4 linked regions of the Homo sapiens genome follow. The protein of the gene in region 1 purifies or fractionates together with the protein of each later gene. This does not show direct contact. Each region holds a gene or a part of one and is shown in the gene's direction. Other genes may lie near its edges.

Evidence for each region. The genes of interacting proteins can lie anywhere in the genome.
Region 2: the proteins of CRAMP1 (region 1) and PPP4R2 purify together in Homo sapiens (affinity purification with mass spectrometry; 2 studies listed by BioGRID and IntAct, with this or other methods). This does not show direct contact.
Region 3: the proteins of CRAMP1 (region 1) and CPNE7 purify together in Homo sapiens (affinity purification with mass spectrometry; one large-scale study listed by BioGRID and IntAct). This does not show direct contact.
Region 4: the proteins of CRAMP1 (region 1) and GTF2IRD1 purify together in Homo sapiens (affinity purification with mass spectrometry; one large-scale study listed by BioGRID and IntAct). This does not show direct contact.

What each region holds. Positions count from the first base shown.
Region 1 is NC_000016.10:1,618,823-1,622,584, forward strand, and holds part of CRAMP1 (protein cramped-like), read left to right. Parts: intron 1-3,762.
Region 2 is NC_000003.12:73,045,062-73,048,823, forward strand, and holds part of PPP4R2 (serine/threonine-protein phosphatase 4 regulatory subunit 2), read left to right. Parts: intron 1-2,124; coding exon 2,125-2,295; intron 2,296-3,762. UniProt on the Homo sapiens protein: Regulatory subunit of serine/threonine-protein phosphatase 4 (PP4). May regulate the activity of PPP4C at centrosomal microtubule organizing centers.
Region 3 is NC_000016.10:89,592,509-89,595,264, forward strand, and holds part of CPNE7 (copine-7), read left to right. Parts: exon of another isoform or gene 1-1,456; intron 1,457-2,756. UniProt on the Homo sapiens protein: Calcium-dependent phospholipid-binding protein that may play a role in calcium-mediated intracellular processes.
Region 4 is NC_000007.14:74,516,157-74,519,918, forward strand, and holds part of GTF2IRD1 (general transcription factor II-I repeat domain-containing protein 1), read left to right. Parts: intron 1-1,982; coding exon 1,983-2,166; intron 2,167-3,252; coding exon 3,253-3,563; intron 3,564-3,762. UniProt on the Homo sapiens protein: May be a transcription regulator involved in cell-cycle progression and skeletal muscle differentiation. May repress GTF2I transcriptional functions, by preventing its nuclear residency, or by inhibiting its transcriptional activation.

The sequences.
Region 1 (3,762 bases):
ACATTGCACTCCAGCCTGGGTGACACAACAAGACCCTGTTTCAAAAACAAAACAAAACCAAAAAAGATAAAGTAGGTAAGGCAAAATTTGAACATTGGTTTGAAGGCTGAGCTGCTTTTCAAATACCTGTATACTTTTGGTATTAAAACTAGTTTCTGTGGTGTCTGTTGTTGTGAAGTTGTCTAATGAGGTAGACTTTTCGATTTTCATTTTTGTATCTTATTGTGGCTTATGTAAGGATATAACAGGGAGATGATTCATGATTGCAAAGTCAGAAATGTGAAAATTAACATCGTTGTATAAAGTGGTGTGTAGAAGCTCTTTGTCACATAAGTAACAACAGCGGGGTTTTGTTTTTTGTTTTTGTTTTGTTTTTGAGACGGAGTCTCATTCTGTCGCCTGGGCTTGAGTGCAGTGCTGCGATCTCAACTCACTGCAATCTCCGCCTCACAGGTTCAAGCAATTCTCCTGTCTCAGCCTCCTGAGGAGCTGGGACTACAGGCGCATGCTGCTACACCCGACTAATTTTTTTTATTTTAGTAGAGATGGGGTTTTACCGTATGGCCCAGGCTGGTCTCGAACTCCTGAGCTCAGGTGATCCGCCTGCCTCGGCCTCCCAAAGTGCTAGGATTTCAGGCGTGAGCCACTGCGCCCGGCACAACAGCGTTTTTAACACTAAAGAACCACGTTAGAAACACTGAAAAAAGGAGACATTTCCAGGAGTTTGTAGTTTAGTTGGGATATCTTGCAATACCTACAGGATACAATTAGAAAATCTGCTGGTATTTCATGAAGAGGGCATACGCTTTTATACAAACAGTGGAGTTCTAGTTGTATTTCTCTCAAATATTTGTAGGAGGGGAAAGGGAGAATCTTCAAGAGAGACAGCGCTGGTCAGAGCATGCAGGAGGACGCTGAGCCTTGCAGGCACTGAGGGTGGGAGTCCCGGCAGAGAAGGGGACAGTATGAGTGACTCCCAGAGGGTGTCGTGGAGACCATTAGGTTTTAGGTCAGCTTCAGAACCTGGAAGAGGACATCTCAGAGTCTGGCGACCCTGACCAGGGCTCTTGCAGGCACGCCTGGAGTGTGGACCAGATCTTTAGATTGATGGGACAATGCGAGGTCAGGAGGGGTCCCGGTTTGCTCACCGACTGCCTGTCGTATAGGATGGAGCGACACCACTGCGTGTGCATGACGATGGAGCTGGGTAGGGGAGGCTCAGAACTCATCCGAGATGACACCTTGCCTGCGGCTTGGCTTGCTTGAAGGGTCCCCCCATGTGACCTTGGAGATGGTATCCACCAAGCCCTCACCCACAACTCTGGCTCCAAGACCAGAGCTGCTGGCACCAGCATCTGATGCGATGTCTTGTGTTAGGAGAGGCACGGAATGCCTCAGGAGACTTGGAGGTGGACGCGTTGGACCTCTGCAGTTTCTGCGCCATCCTTGGCCTCCTGGGAAGGGTCCCTGCTGTCTTATGCTGCAGACGTAGGCCATGAGGACGTTTCCCGGTGCTGGGGTTGGGGCACGGTCAAGTCTGGAGATGCCCTTCCACGAGCGGGTGTCGCCAGTGCCTTTCTAGCTGAGAAATGAGTGAAGCATGGGGGAGACGGGTGTGTTCACTGCAGTCCTCTCACCTCCAGACCAGACGCTGACTCCCTCGCAGTTGGTGTTCTGTCACTCTTGATTTTACTATTCCTAACCCTCTGAAGGAAGTTCACCAAACCACAGAAAGAGTGCTCCAGGACAGTGAATTGATGTTAGAGATGATGACAGGGTGTCACTGGGCTTCTGCGTCTGACCTCTCACGTCCAGACAGACATCTTCCAAAGGCCCAGCTCTGGCTGTCTATTAGCCGCGTGCCTTTCGGTGAGTCATTTAACTTCTCACCTTTCCCAGGCTGAGGGAGGGACTTTGAGGTTGGTTTCCCCCACCACGACCCTGATCCTCCAGCTCTGTGACAGGACAGTGTGCGCTGCTTGGCTTTCAGAGCTGTTCTGACGGCACGGCATGGGAAACGCCTGGGTTTGGAGTGAGAAGGTTGCGTGGTTCTTGCTGCCTGGTGACTTCGGGGCTTCTAAAGCCTCAGTTTCCCCCATTTCATTTTTTTTTTTACATGACATAATGCTATTAATAATTTCTGAAAGTTTCCCCATTTCTAAAATGGAGATAACTACCCATTGCGAGGACAGGAAGAAGCAGGGCATTTGAATGCATTTTAAGGTGCCATTTAAATACAGGTTCTGTTACTTCCAGGCCTGCTGGGCACTGAGCAGCTGTGTGGCTTTGTGGGTGACCTACTCAGCCCGTGCCTCAGCTTCCCCAGTTGAAAGATATGGATACTTTTTCTTCTTAAGGTGATATGAAGGGGTGCAGGTGGTGGCATTCCAGACCAACCCAGGACATGTGATGGGGAAGAGGACGTGTTGCAAAGAATAGGTGGTAGGGCCTGTCTGGAGCTAGGTAGAGGGGCCAGCAGCTGGGAGGGTGCGCTGGGGCCACATGGCTGTGCCCTCACTGCACCGTCTGCACAGCAGGCTGTGGCAGGTGCTAGGGGTTTGGGAGACCTGAGAAGAGGCTGTTGAAATTGTCTTACTTGGGCGGCAGAGAGCTGGCTTGGGAAACAGGCGGTGCGGATGGGAAGGGGAAAGCAGGTGGCAGTGTGGCCTCTGGAGAACTGTGGCGCTGACACGGGCTAAGCAGGAAGGTGGGTTCCATTTGGGAGGACCTGGGTCCCAGCAGCCTGGGGTGTGCTGTCTGGGGCTGCCGAGGGGCAGAGGGAGCTTGGGGAGGCCCTTTATCTAGGCTCCGTGGGACCCTGTGCTGTCACTGAGCACTTGCTGTGTGTGAGGCCTGGGACCAGGCTTGGGTGTGGGGAAGTTCCACACGGTTCTTGCTTTCAAAGAGTGCACTGTTGGCGATCCTGCTTCTGCACCCCACTTCCCTGCAGGCTTCTCGATGGTTCTCCTCATTGTGCAGACCACACTCAGCCTCTGTGGGCTCAGCAACAGTCACAGATGGACCTGGCTTTGGCCTTCTGCTTTTCGCTGGGTGTCCTGCACCCAGAGAAGCCCACCTAGTTTTGTTTACATCATCTTACCTTTCCGTCTCTTGCCTTTCTCCTCCCATTTTTCTTGTTGCTTCTCTGTCTTCCCCTTCAGTCATCACCTTCTGTTTTCATCTGAATTTCTCTGAGCTGAGTCAGGTGGCCTCACACAGGCTGTCATCGTATTCTACCAGGTGTCTCTGGTCCCACTTTCTATTTCATTTCGCTTGAGCTGTACTCAGTGAGCCGAGGTCAAGCAGTGAAGCCACTTCTGCATCTGAAATTTTAGGGGTGAACCAGAGGCCACCTTCAGTTTCTGCTCTGAAGTTTGTGATTGTTTTTTAAAAAGCATTCCAAGTTTAGGCCGGGCGCAGTGGCCCATGCCTGTAACCCTAGCACTTTGAGAGGCTGAGGCGGGAGGATTATCTGAGTTCAGGAGCTCGTGACCAGCCTGAGCAACATGGTGAAACCCCGTCTCTACTAAAGTACAAAAAAATTAGCCATTGTGGTGGTGTGCACCCATAATCCCAGCTACTCGAGAGGCTGGGTGCCGGAATTGACTGCCTGGGAGGCAGAGCTTGCAGTAAGCCAGGATTGCACCACTGCACTCCAGCCTGGGTGACAGAGCAAGACTCCTTACACAACAGCAACCAAAAAAGCACTCCAAGTCTAGAATAATGGGCACCAAATATTAGAAAAGGTTACTTGGGGCGATT
Region 2 (3,762 bases), on another chromosome or scaffold:
TGGCTTACTGCAGCCTCTACCTCCTGGGCTCAAGCAATCCTGTTGCCTCGGCCTCTTGAGTAGCTGGGACTACAGGTGCATACCACCATGCCTAATTTAAATTAATTAGTAATTAATTATTTTGTAGAGACGGAGTATTGCTGTTTGCCCAGGCTGGCTTCCAACTCCTGGGCCCAAGTGATCTTCCTGTCTCGGCTTCCCAAAGTGCTGGGATTACAGGCGTGAGCCACCACACCTGGCCTCGTATAATATTTTTATGTCGACACTGGTTGCCTTCAGAATATTTTGGGACTATATCAGGAAGCTTTCAAGCTCACAGTGAAGAATAAAAATTGTCCAGACTTTTAGTTTTTTGCTTAGAAGTTCAAATTTTTATCATTGGTAACAAATACTGTCAGTTATTTATCTTGAAATGACAGGTTCACTTTATTTATTTTTGAGAAAATGTCTACCACATTCTCCTAATTTTTTTTTTTTTTTTGGAAATGGAGTCTTGCTCATCGCCCGGGCTGGCGTGCAGTGATGCAATCCTCAGCTCACTACAACCTCCACCTCCTCAGTTCAAGTGATTCTCCTTGCCTCAGCCTCCTGTGTAGCTGGGATTACAGGCATGCACCACCCCGCCTGGCTAATTTTTGTATTTTTAGTAAAGACAGGGTTTCACCATGTTGGCCAGGCTGATCTCGAACTCCTGACCTCAGGTGATCCGCCTGCTGGGTTTACAGGTGTGAGCCATCACACCCAGTCTGCTAATCTAAATAAGCTTTATTTGTGTGGCAGTCCTTTCAGGTTAAAATGCTGTTCTATGAAAAATAGCTAGTTCAGCTGGCAGCGGTCTAAATAAAGGTATTGTTCTTTGAGAATCTCATACCTCTTTGATATGCAGCATAATTTTTTTAATACCTGTTTCTCATTTTGTTACACAGAATATGTAAAAGATGTATTCAAGGGTTGGGATTTAATGAAATTAGTAATTTTTATATCTTTTACACTTTAAGTGGAACAGATTTTTAAAATTACGAGTTTGTGAAAATTCTGGCTTCTGCTACAGCTAGTAATACAGTTTGGTGCTGCTGTCCTGACTCTTGCTACATGGATTATCAGTTTTATCCACCTTGCTTTTATACCATCAGTGCACACATTAACAGTGAACTAGTCAGCCCTTATTCTTTTGACAATAGCTTTGACCTCTTGGACCACAATTTGAAAACTGCTACCCTAGTTTATAGGGTTGCTGCATGGGATGGAAGGTGATTACAGATGGGCTCCCGTTAATTTGTGTAAATTTGTTTAAGTAGTCAACCTGTGTAAAGAGATTGATCTGCTGTCACTAATGGTAGTACTGTCTGCCTGAGGAAATGGTTAGCATTCCTGACTCCCGTGTCTCCTGGAATTTACACTATTCAGGCAGGTATCCTCACAAAATTTCCTTTTATATTACTGGTGAAATGTGAGGAAAGAGGGATAAAAAGGTGTTTATGTTAATTTGATAAATGAATAGATGTGAAAAGTACCTAAGCAAATTATGTATTTTTATTGTGCAAGTACTGGTTGGATAGAACCTGTGATTATGTGCCTTAATCATAGGTACATGCCTTTTGTCTCTTAAGTGACAAAAGAGCCTGAAGATATTAACTGAAAGGGGAAAAAAAAGGAGAAAGTAAAGTTTATTTTGTTATTTAGTAGATAATAGACAAATTTTACTAGTCCATGCAAACATTGTAACTTGGATGATTAAGGTATGGATTCATTCTGACTTAATAGGATAGTGTAACTAATGCCCACCTGGTTAGGTTTGTTATGAGTGAAAGAGTCAAAATATTATTTTAAACATACTAAGAATAGGACCTAACACACCATAGACTTTCAGGCAGAGGTAGTTCATTTAAAAGATCTAAATGAGAGATCTGGGTTTTGTTTGGGTTGGGAGTTGGATAGCATCAGGATGGAGCTTGTGATAAATGAGGCATGATGTGTGCTCTTCAATGACGGCATTCTCATTACTAATTATTCACATCTTAATTTTGTTAGTATTAGTGTCATAGTATATTTTATATTTGTGTTTTGTGTTCAAGAATTGTGAAGCTACATGGTATTATATATTTTTTAATTTTTTGCTTATAGGATTCAGTGGTCCCAATTTAAAGGCTATTTTATTTTCAAACTGGAGAAAGTGATGGATGATTTCAGAACTTCAGCTCCTGAGCCAAGAGGTCCTCCCAACCCTAATGTCGAATATATTCCCTTTGATGAAATGAAGGAAAGAATACTGAAAATTGTCACTGGATTTAATGGGTATGCACTTAATACTGTTTTAAAGATTTAATTTTTAGCAGAAGATGAATAGATTTTTCTTTTAGTTTTGATGTGTCTGGTTGATGATTGATTATCCATTAGAATAAATTCCTTGTTTCTAGTGACATGTAGTAGTTGATGATTTTTAGCTTACAACTATTTAAAATATTTGTAGCCTCTTAAAAAACTTGAACCACCTTTTTATAGGTATCAGTGGAAACAGTCATTTATCAGGAAACATTTTAATGGTTTTTCTTTCCTGTTTTATATTTGGTGTTATGTCTTCATACTTTATATAGAACCTTTATATCATTGAGAAATCACATTTCTTTTAAAACGAAATACTAATTTATGGAAGTATTTTAGTGAGTTTTTGTTTAGACTTTTTTTGGAGTCATCATTTCTCTCCTAAGTAACGGCTTGCTTGTTAGTTACAAGTAACCATTTTTGGCCGCTTGTAAAACATTAAAAACACTAAAAAGATATTCTGTACAAAAGTAAAACTCCCCGGTTTTTTTGTTTTGTTTTGTTTGTTTTTGAGAAGGTGTCTCGCTCTGTCACCTAGGCTGGAATACAGTGGCGTGATCTTGGCTCGCTGCAGTCTCTGTCTCCTGGGTTCAAGCAATTCTCCTCCCTCAGCTTCGCGAGTAACTGAGACTGTAGGCGCATGCCACCACACCCGGCTAATTTTTGTATTTTTAGTAGAGACAGGGTTTCACCATGTTAGCCAGGATGGTCTCGATCTCCTGACCTCATGATCCGCCTGCCTCGGCCTCCCAAAGTGCTGGAATTACAGGCGTGAGCCACCACGCCCGGCAGTACTCATTTTTAAAGAAATGTTACTGTGTCTCATACTCTGTCATTTTAAATTCTATTTTTGTAGGACTTTGTTTTTTGTTTTATTTTGTTTTGTTTTGAGACAGAGTCTCGCTGTCACCCAGGGTGGAGTGCAGTGGCATGATCTCGGCTCACCGCAACCTCCGCCTGCCAGGTTCAAGCAATTCTGCCTCAGCCCCCCGGGTAGCTAGGCTAGGACCACAGGTGCGCGCCACGGTGCTCGGCTAATTTTTTTATTTTTTAATAGAGATGGGGTTTCACCATGCTGGCCAGGCTGGTCTCCAACTCCTGACCTTGTGATCCGCCCACCTCAGCCTCCCACAGTGTTGGGATTACAGGCGTGAGCCCCCGCGCCCAGCCAGGACTTTGTATTTTTACGGTTTCCTTTATTGAAGGGAAGAAGTGTTTGTGAAGTTGAATTATTCGATATTTAGTTTGGCGTTAACTTAGGGTGTGGAACAACAATACCAAATATAATGAATTGTGGTTTTTCTAACCAGTGAATTCATAGTTAGAATTAGATAGTATTTGAAGGGTTTCAGTTGTATTTTTAGATGGCATAAATGGCTTGATTCTTTAGGTATTTAATTGCATGGGATTTTGAAATAAGATAGTGTAATCCAGTTAACG
Region 3 (2,756 bases), about 88 Mb from region 1:
CTCGGCTCACTGCAAGCTCCACCCTCCGAGTTCAAGCAATTCTCCTGCCTCAGCCTCCCGAGTAGCTGGGATTACAGGCTCCCGCCACCACGCCCGGCTAATTTTTTGTATTTTTAGTAGAGACGGGGTTTCACAGTCTTGGCCAGGCTGGTCTTAAACTCCTGACCTTGTGATCCACCCGCCTCGGCCTCCCAAAGTGCTGGGATTACAGGAGTGAGCCACCGCGCCCAGCCCAAATTTTTTTTATTGTGATAAAATATGCACAGTTTAAAATTTACCATTGTAACCATTTTTTTCTTTTCTTTTTTTTTTTTTTTTTTTGAGATGGAGTTTTACTCTTGTCACCCAGGCTGGAGTGCAGTGACGTGATCTCGGCTCACTGCAAGCTCCGCCTCCCGGGTTCACGCCATTCTCCTGACTCAGCCTCCTGAGTAGCTGGGAGTACAGGCGCCCGCCACCATACCCGGCTAATTTTTATATTTTTGTAGAGATGGGGTTTCACTGTCTTGGCCAGGCTGGTCTCAAACTCCTGACCTCAAGTGATCTGCCTGCCTCAGCCTCCCAAAGTGCTGGGATGGGATTACAGGTGTGAGCCGCCGCACCTGGCCTGTAACCATTTTATTGTATCCAGTTCAGAGGCACGAGGTACATTCATGATGATCAAACATCACCCGTCTACTTACATCTTCAAGCCAAATGGGAACCCTATATCTGTTTGCATCTATTTTTAATTTATACAGATAGTATCGTGATAAAGACTTTGATGCTTTTTAAAAAACTTGGCACTGCACACACACATTTGTGAACCGTCCGAGAGCACGTTGCAACATCACGGTTTTACCTCTTAATATTTTTTTTTTTTTGAGATGGAGTCTCGCTCTTCACCCAGGCTGGAGTGCAGTGGCGCGATCTTGGTTCACTGCAAGCTCCGCCTCCCGGGTTCACGCCATTCTCCTGCCTCAGCCTCCCAAATAGCTGGGACTACAGGCGCCCGCCACCACGCCCGGCTAATTTTTTGTATTTTTAGTAGAGACGGGGTTTCACTGTGTTAGCCAGGATGGTCTCGATCTCCTGACCTCGTGATCCGCCCACCTCGGCCTCCCAAAGTGCTGGGATTACAGGCGTGAGCCACCGCGCCCGGCCTACCTCTTACTATTTCAGTGTATATTTCCTAAGATCAAAGATATTCTCTTGTATAACCATAGCACAAATACAGATTTCAGGAAATTGAATTTAGATACAATCCTTTTATCTAATACATAGACTATATTCCAATTTCATTCATTGGCACAATCATAACTTTCAAAGCAGTATTGTTCCTGGCCCAGGAGCCAGTCCGGAGTCGAGGATTGCGTTCAGCTGTTATGTTCCTGTGTGGCTGGGAAGCGGGTCTCAGACGGTTTCATCTGTAAATGTCAGTATCAGCGTCTAATAAAGATAAGCCTCTTTTTAAGCAGCCACGACACCTGATCACACCTAACCACCACTCCTGGCATTGCACATCCGTCTGGTGTTTGTGTTTCCTGTTGTCTTACCCGTGACATGGTTTTCTGTGGTTAGAATTGGGTTGAAACGAGGACTCAGACATGATCAGCTGAGCCCTCGGTCCCTCTCCTGGACACGAAGCTCCCGCCCTAGTGGGGCCCCACGGTGGGTTTTGGTGCCTGGTGCTCGCACAGTTGGCAGAGGGGGGTGGGGGCCTCATCTGGGGTTGGGAGGGGGTGGGGGGCTTTCTGAGGCTGGGCTGTTTATCTGGAGGCCGAGAGCCAGGCTGGGCACAGCCGTGGGTGCTTGTAGGCCTGGACCAGAGACTGCCTTGCAAACAGGTAATTCTTCCCACAGGTGTGGGGCTCAGAGAGGGGGAGATGGGGAGGGCACAAAAAGAGAGCCTCTTGGAGAAGGCGACTCTGAGTGGGGTCCTGGGGCCCCTGTTCGTTTCCAGGACACATCTGCCCTCAGTGGGACGGGCTCAGTCAAGGCCAGCCCAGGGGAGGCTGCTGTGGGCTCCCGCTCTGCTGCTCAGGCGAGCCCTGCTTCTCTTTATGTTTCCCGTTGTCCACAGTTTGGGCAAGATTATTGAGTGGGGTTTTTTTTAAACAATGGAAGTTGATTTTATTTGAAGTTCCATTCTGCCTTTTTTTTTTTTTTTTTTTTTTTTTTTTTGGAGACAGTCTCACTCTATCGCCAGGCTGAAGTGCAATGGCGCGATCTCAGCTCACTGCACCCTCTGCCTCCCAAGTTCAAGCGATTCTCATGCCTCAGCCTCCCGAATAGCTGGGATTACAGGCGCCCACCACCACGCCCAGCTAGTTTTTGTATTTTTAGTAGAGATGGGGTTTCACCATTTTGGCCAGGCTGGTCTCGAACTCCTGACCTCAGGTGATCCGCCCGCCTCGGCCTCCCAAAGTGCTGAGATTACAGGCGTGAACCACCGCGTCCGGCCAACACTCAGTCTTGTGGCAGCACAGCGGGCACCCTGGAGAGACTGGAGCAGGGTGTGTGGGCTGCAGGTCTGGCTCCTGGGATCGCAGATTTCTCCTCTGGCCTCAGACCTCCCATCCAGGCACTGTGAGCTCATCAGTAAAATGTAGACTTCGTAGCACCCCCTCCACAGCCCTCCGTGAGACTCGTGGAGATTTCCTGAGCTGGGCACAGGAGGCCCAGAGTGCCCGCCACGGAGGGGGCTCCTGACCCACTGTTGTTCGTGATGTTTGTGATGTAGGCATCACACTCTGAAGGCGGTTCTAGGAAGCTCT
Region 4 (3,762 bases), on another chromosome or scaffold:
TTGAGACTGCCTTTCCCCTCCTGTGTCTGGCAGACACCTGCGTGGCACTGAGGCTCTGCTCCTGGAAGCCCCCTCACAGTGGGTTTAGGCCCCTCTCTTGGCACCCACAGTGCCCTGTCCCCTCTCCAGCCCAAGAGCTCTCCAGAGTCAGGGGCTGTGTCTGCCCTTTCTAGCTGTCTCCAGCCTACAGTTCAGAGCCCAGCAACAGCAGGTGCTTGGAGAATGTTTGTTGAATGACTAAGTGAAGGCTGATTGCTCAGCCATGTCTTTCCTGCAGGAAGAGGAGACCTGGCCTCCCTTGGGAAGCGTCAGGTTGCAGAGGGCCTCAGGGCCCCAGTGGTGGTCTTCACACGCCCTGGGAAACATCGGGCAGGTCCCTTTGGTGCTCAGGGTCCCACCTCATTCATTTCTGATTTGGCTTTATCCCTTCTCCTACTGTAGCCTTTGGTTTTATGGAGCAAAGGTCTGTGAGGAAACTTCTGCTGTTCTTATGTCAGAAGGAGGGGTACCCAGAGGCCCTGGGTGGTCACACTGGCCACCCTGGGATGGGGGACTTGCCACGCATGGTTGGCTGTGCCTCTGTCGACACTTTTGCCAGCTGCAGGGCCCCGCGCCCCTGCCCGCCTTGCCCTGGCCCCCCTTGTCCACTTTGGGCAGAATTCAAGGAGGCTATGAGAGGATGGGCCTCTTTCTGGCTCAGGGTGGGGGCTGTAGCATGGAGGTGACAACAGATATCCCAGTGCCCAGTCCTCAGTCCCCAGCCTGCCTCCCCTCCTCTGTGCCCCCGAGCCCCCATCTTTGTTCCTGCGTCTTCTCAGTCTGTCTCTTTCTCCTCTCTCCTGTCTTTGTTGTTGTTGTTGTTGTTGTTGTTGTTGTTGTTGTTTTGAGATGAAGTTTCACTCTGTTGCCCAGGCTGGAGTGCAATGGCATGATCTCGGCTCATTACAACCTCCCCCTCCTGGGTTCAAGCAATTCTCCTGCCTCAGCCTCCTGAGTAGCTGGGATTACAGGCACCTGCCACCACACCTGGATAATTTTTATATTTTTAGTAGAGACGGGGTTTCACCATGTTGGCCAGGCTGGTCTCAAACTCCTGACCTCAAGTGATCCACCTGCCTCGGTAATCCCAAAGTGCTGGGATTACAGGCGTGAGCCACCACGCCCAGCCTCTCCCATCTTTTTCTCAATCCCCTATTTTTGCTCCCTCTCCACTTCCTCTTCTTCTTACTTTCTCTCCCCCCTCTCGGTCTCTCTCCCTTCCTCCCTACACCTTTTTTTTTTTTTTTTTTTTTTTGAGATGGATTCTCGTTCTGTTACCCAGGCTGGAGTGCAGCGGCTCACTGCAACCCACCTCCCGGGTTCAAGCGATTCTCCTGCCTCAGCCTCCCAAGTAGCTGGGATTACAGGCATGCACCACCACACCCAGCTAATTTTTGTATTTTTAGTAGAGACGGGGTTTCATCATGTTGGCCAGGCTGGTCTCGAACTCCTGGCCTCAAGTGATCCTCCCTCCTCAGCCTCCCAAAATGCTGGGATGACAGGCGTGAGCCACCACGCCCAGCCCTTATAGCTTTTTCCTTGCAGCCTGGCTCATGCAAGTCCCCACTTCTCCGTCTCTTCTGCCCTCTTTTCTCCTACCGGATTGTCTGCCTCTGCTCTGTCCTCTGGGCCCTTGAGTCCCCGATTTCCCCTCCAGCCAGGTGCCCAGAGTGGAGAGGGGCTTGGTCGGGGAGGGCAGCAGGGAACCTGCTTGGTGGGGGAGCCCCAGCCCCCCAGATGCAGACAATTGGGCCTTGTCCACACCACCCACCCCCAGCCTGCAGGCGGTTATTCTGCACAAAGTCTGCAGTTATGAGGGGTCCATGGGAACCCCGCACCAAGGGGAGCCACTCAGCACTGCCCCCACTCTGGGGCACAGCAGCCCCGACCCCAGCCTGGCTGCCCTCTCATACCAGGCCCCTCTCCTGGACTCTCCCCTACAGGCGAGGCCCTGGGAAGGGCCAGTGTGGTGCCACTGCCCTATGAGAGGCTGCTCAGGGAGCCAGGGCTGCTGGCCGTGCAGGGGCTGCCCGAAGGCCTGGCCTTCCGAAGGCCAGCCGAGTATGACCCCAAGGCCCTCATGGCCATCCTGGAACACAGCCACCGCATCCGCTTCAAGCTCAAGAGGTGAGTGAGGTAGCCGGCCCGGGGCTGGGCTGGGGCTGGGCCAGGGCCGGGTCAGGGCCGGGGGCTGGAGGCCACTTAGCCAGAGGGGAAGGGACTTGAGATGCCCGTGGGGGACCCTGGTGGTGAAAGCTCCCAGTCTGATGGTGGAGGTGAAGTGAAAGCGAAGTCATAGAACAGGATCTGAGCCAGGTCATTAAGCCTTGAAGTCTTCCCAGGGAAGTTGCATTGCAGAGAGACTTGAAGAGACATGACTTGGGACAAAATAGCACCAAAGTGGTCGGGTACAGTAGCTCATGCCTGTAATCTCAGCACTTTGGGAGGCTGAGGTGGGAGGATCACTTGAGGCCAGGAGTTCAAGACCAGCCTGGGCAACATACCAAGACCCTGTCTCTGCCAAAAAATAAAAATAAAAAAAATTACCCAGGTGTGGTGGTGCACACCTGTCATCTCAGCTGTTCAGGAGGCTGAGGCAGGAGGCTTGCTTGAGCCCAGGAGTTTGAGGATGCAGTGAGCTGTGATTGCGTCACTGCACTCCAGCATGGGCAACAGAGCAAGACCCCATCTCTTAAAAAAAAAATATGGCATTTTAGGTGTCAGAAACGGGAGAACCATGTCCTGTGCTTGCTCAGGTTGTAAATCTGGGGTTAATTAGGGATCCAGGGGAGATTAGGTTGTTGAGGCTGGTCTGAGGCAGTACCAGTTGTCAGGAGAGCCAAGAAGGCAGCCTGAGGGCTTAAGGTTGAACCCATCTCTGCTAAGTGCCCCAGGCAATGCAGAGGCAGGAAGGGGAGGGGTGCAGCAGGAGACAGGAGGCAATCAACCGCACCTGGCGGGATCTGAACAGTGGATTGGAGCAGAGGGGCAGGGCCCAGGTCCTCCGGTGGCCTAGCTCTGTGGCCCTGGGCACACCATTCCCACCTCCGAGCCTGCATCCCCACTTGTGAAGTGGAAGAGCAGCTCCTGTCCTGCCCTCCTCATGGGGCTGTTATGTTCTGCAGAGGGCAGGGATGCGGGGTTTTCGGGGGAAGAGCTGCAATGTGTGAAACAGATGTACAAAGCTGTCCATGTGTCCTCTCCTTTACTCAGGCCACTTGAGGATGGCGGGCGGGACTCGAAGGCCCTGGTGGAGCTGAACGGTGTCTCCCTGATTCCCAAGGGGTCACGGGACTGTGGCCTGCATGGCCAGGCCCCCAAGGTGCCACCCCAGGACCTGCCCCCAACCGCCACCTCCTCCTCCATGGCCAGCTTCCTGTACAGCACGGCGCTCCCCAACCACGCCATCCGAGAGCTCAAGCAGGAAGCACCTTCCTGCCCCCTTGCCCCCAGCGACCTGGGCCTGAGTCGGCCCATGCCAGAGCCCAAGGCCACCGGTGCCCAAGACTTCTCCGACTGTTGTGGTAACATTGCTGCTGGGATCTCCAAGTCTAGGGGGTGGGACAGAGGTCACTCATGCAGGGGACAGCCTCCCAGGGCAGGTCAGGATGCCTGGGCCCTCTTAGGTTGGAAGGAGCCATGTCTGGGCATGGGAGTGGGACTGGACAGATGGTGTCCTGGCTGAGACCCCCTTGGACCTTGGGTCTCTGCTCAGCCATCTGT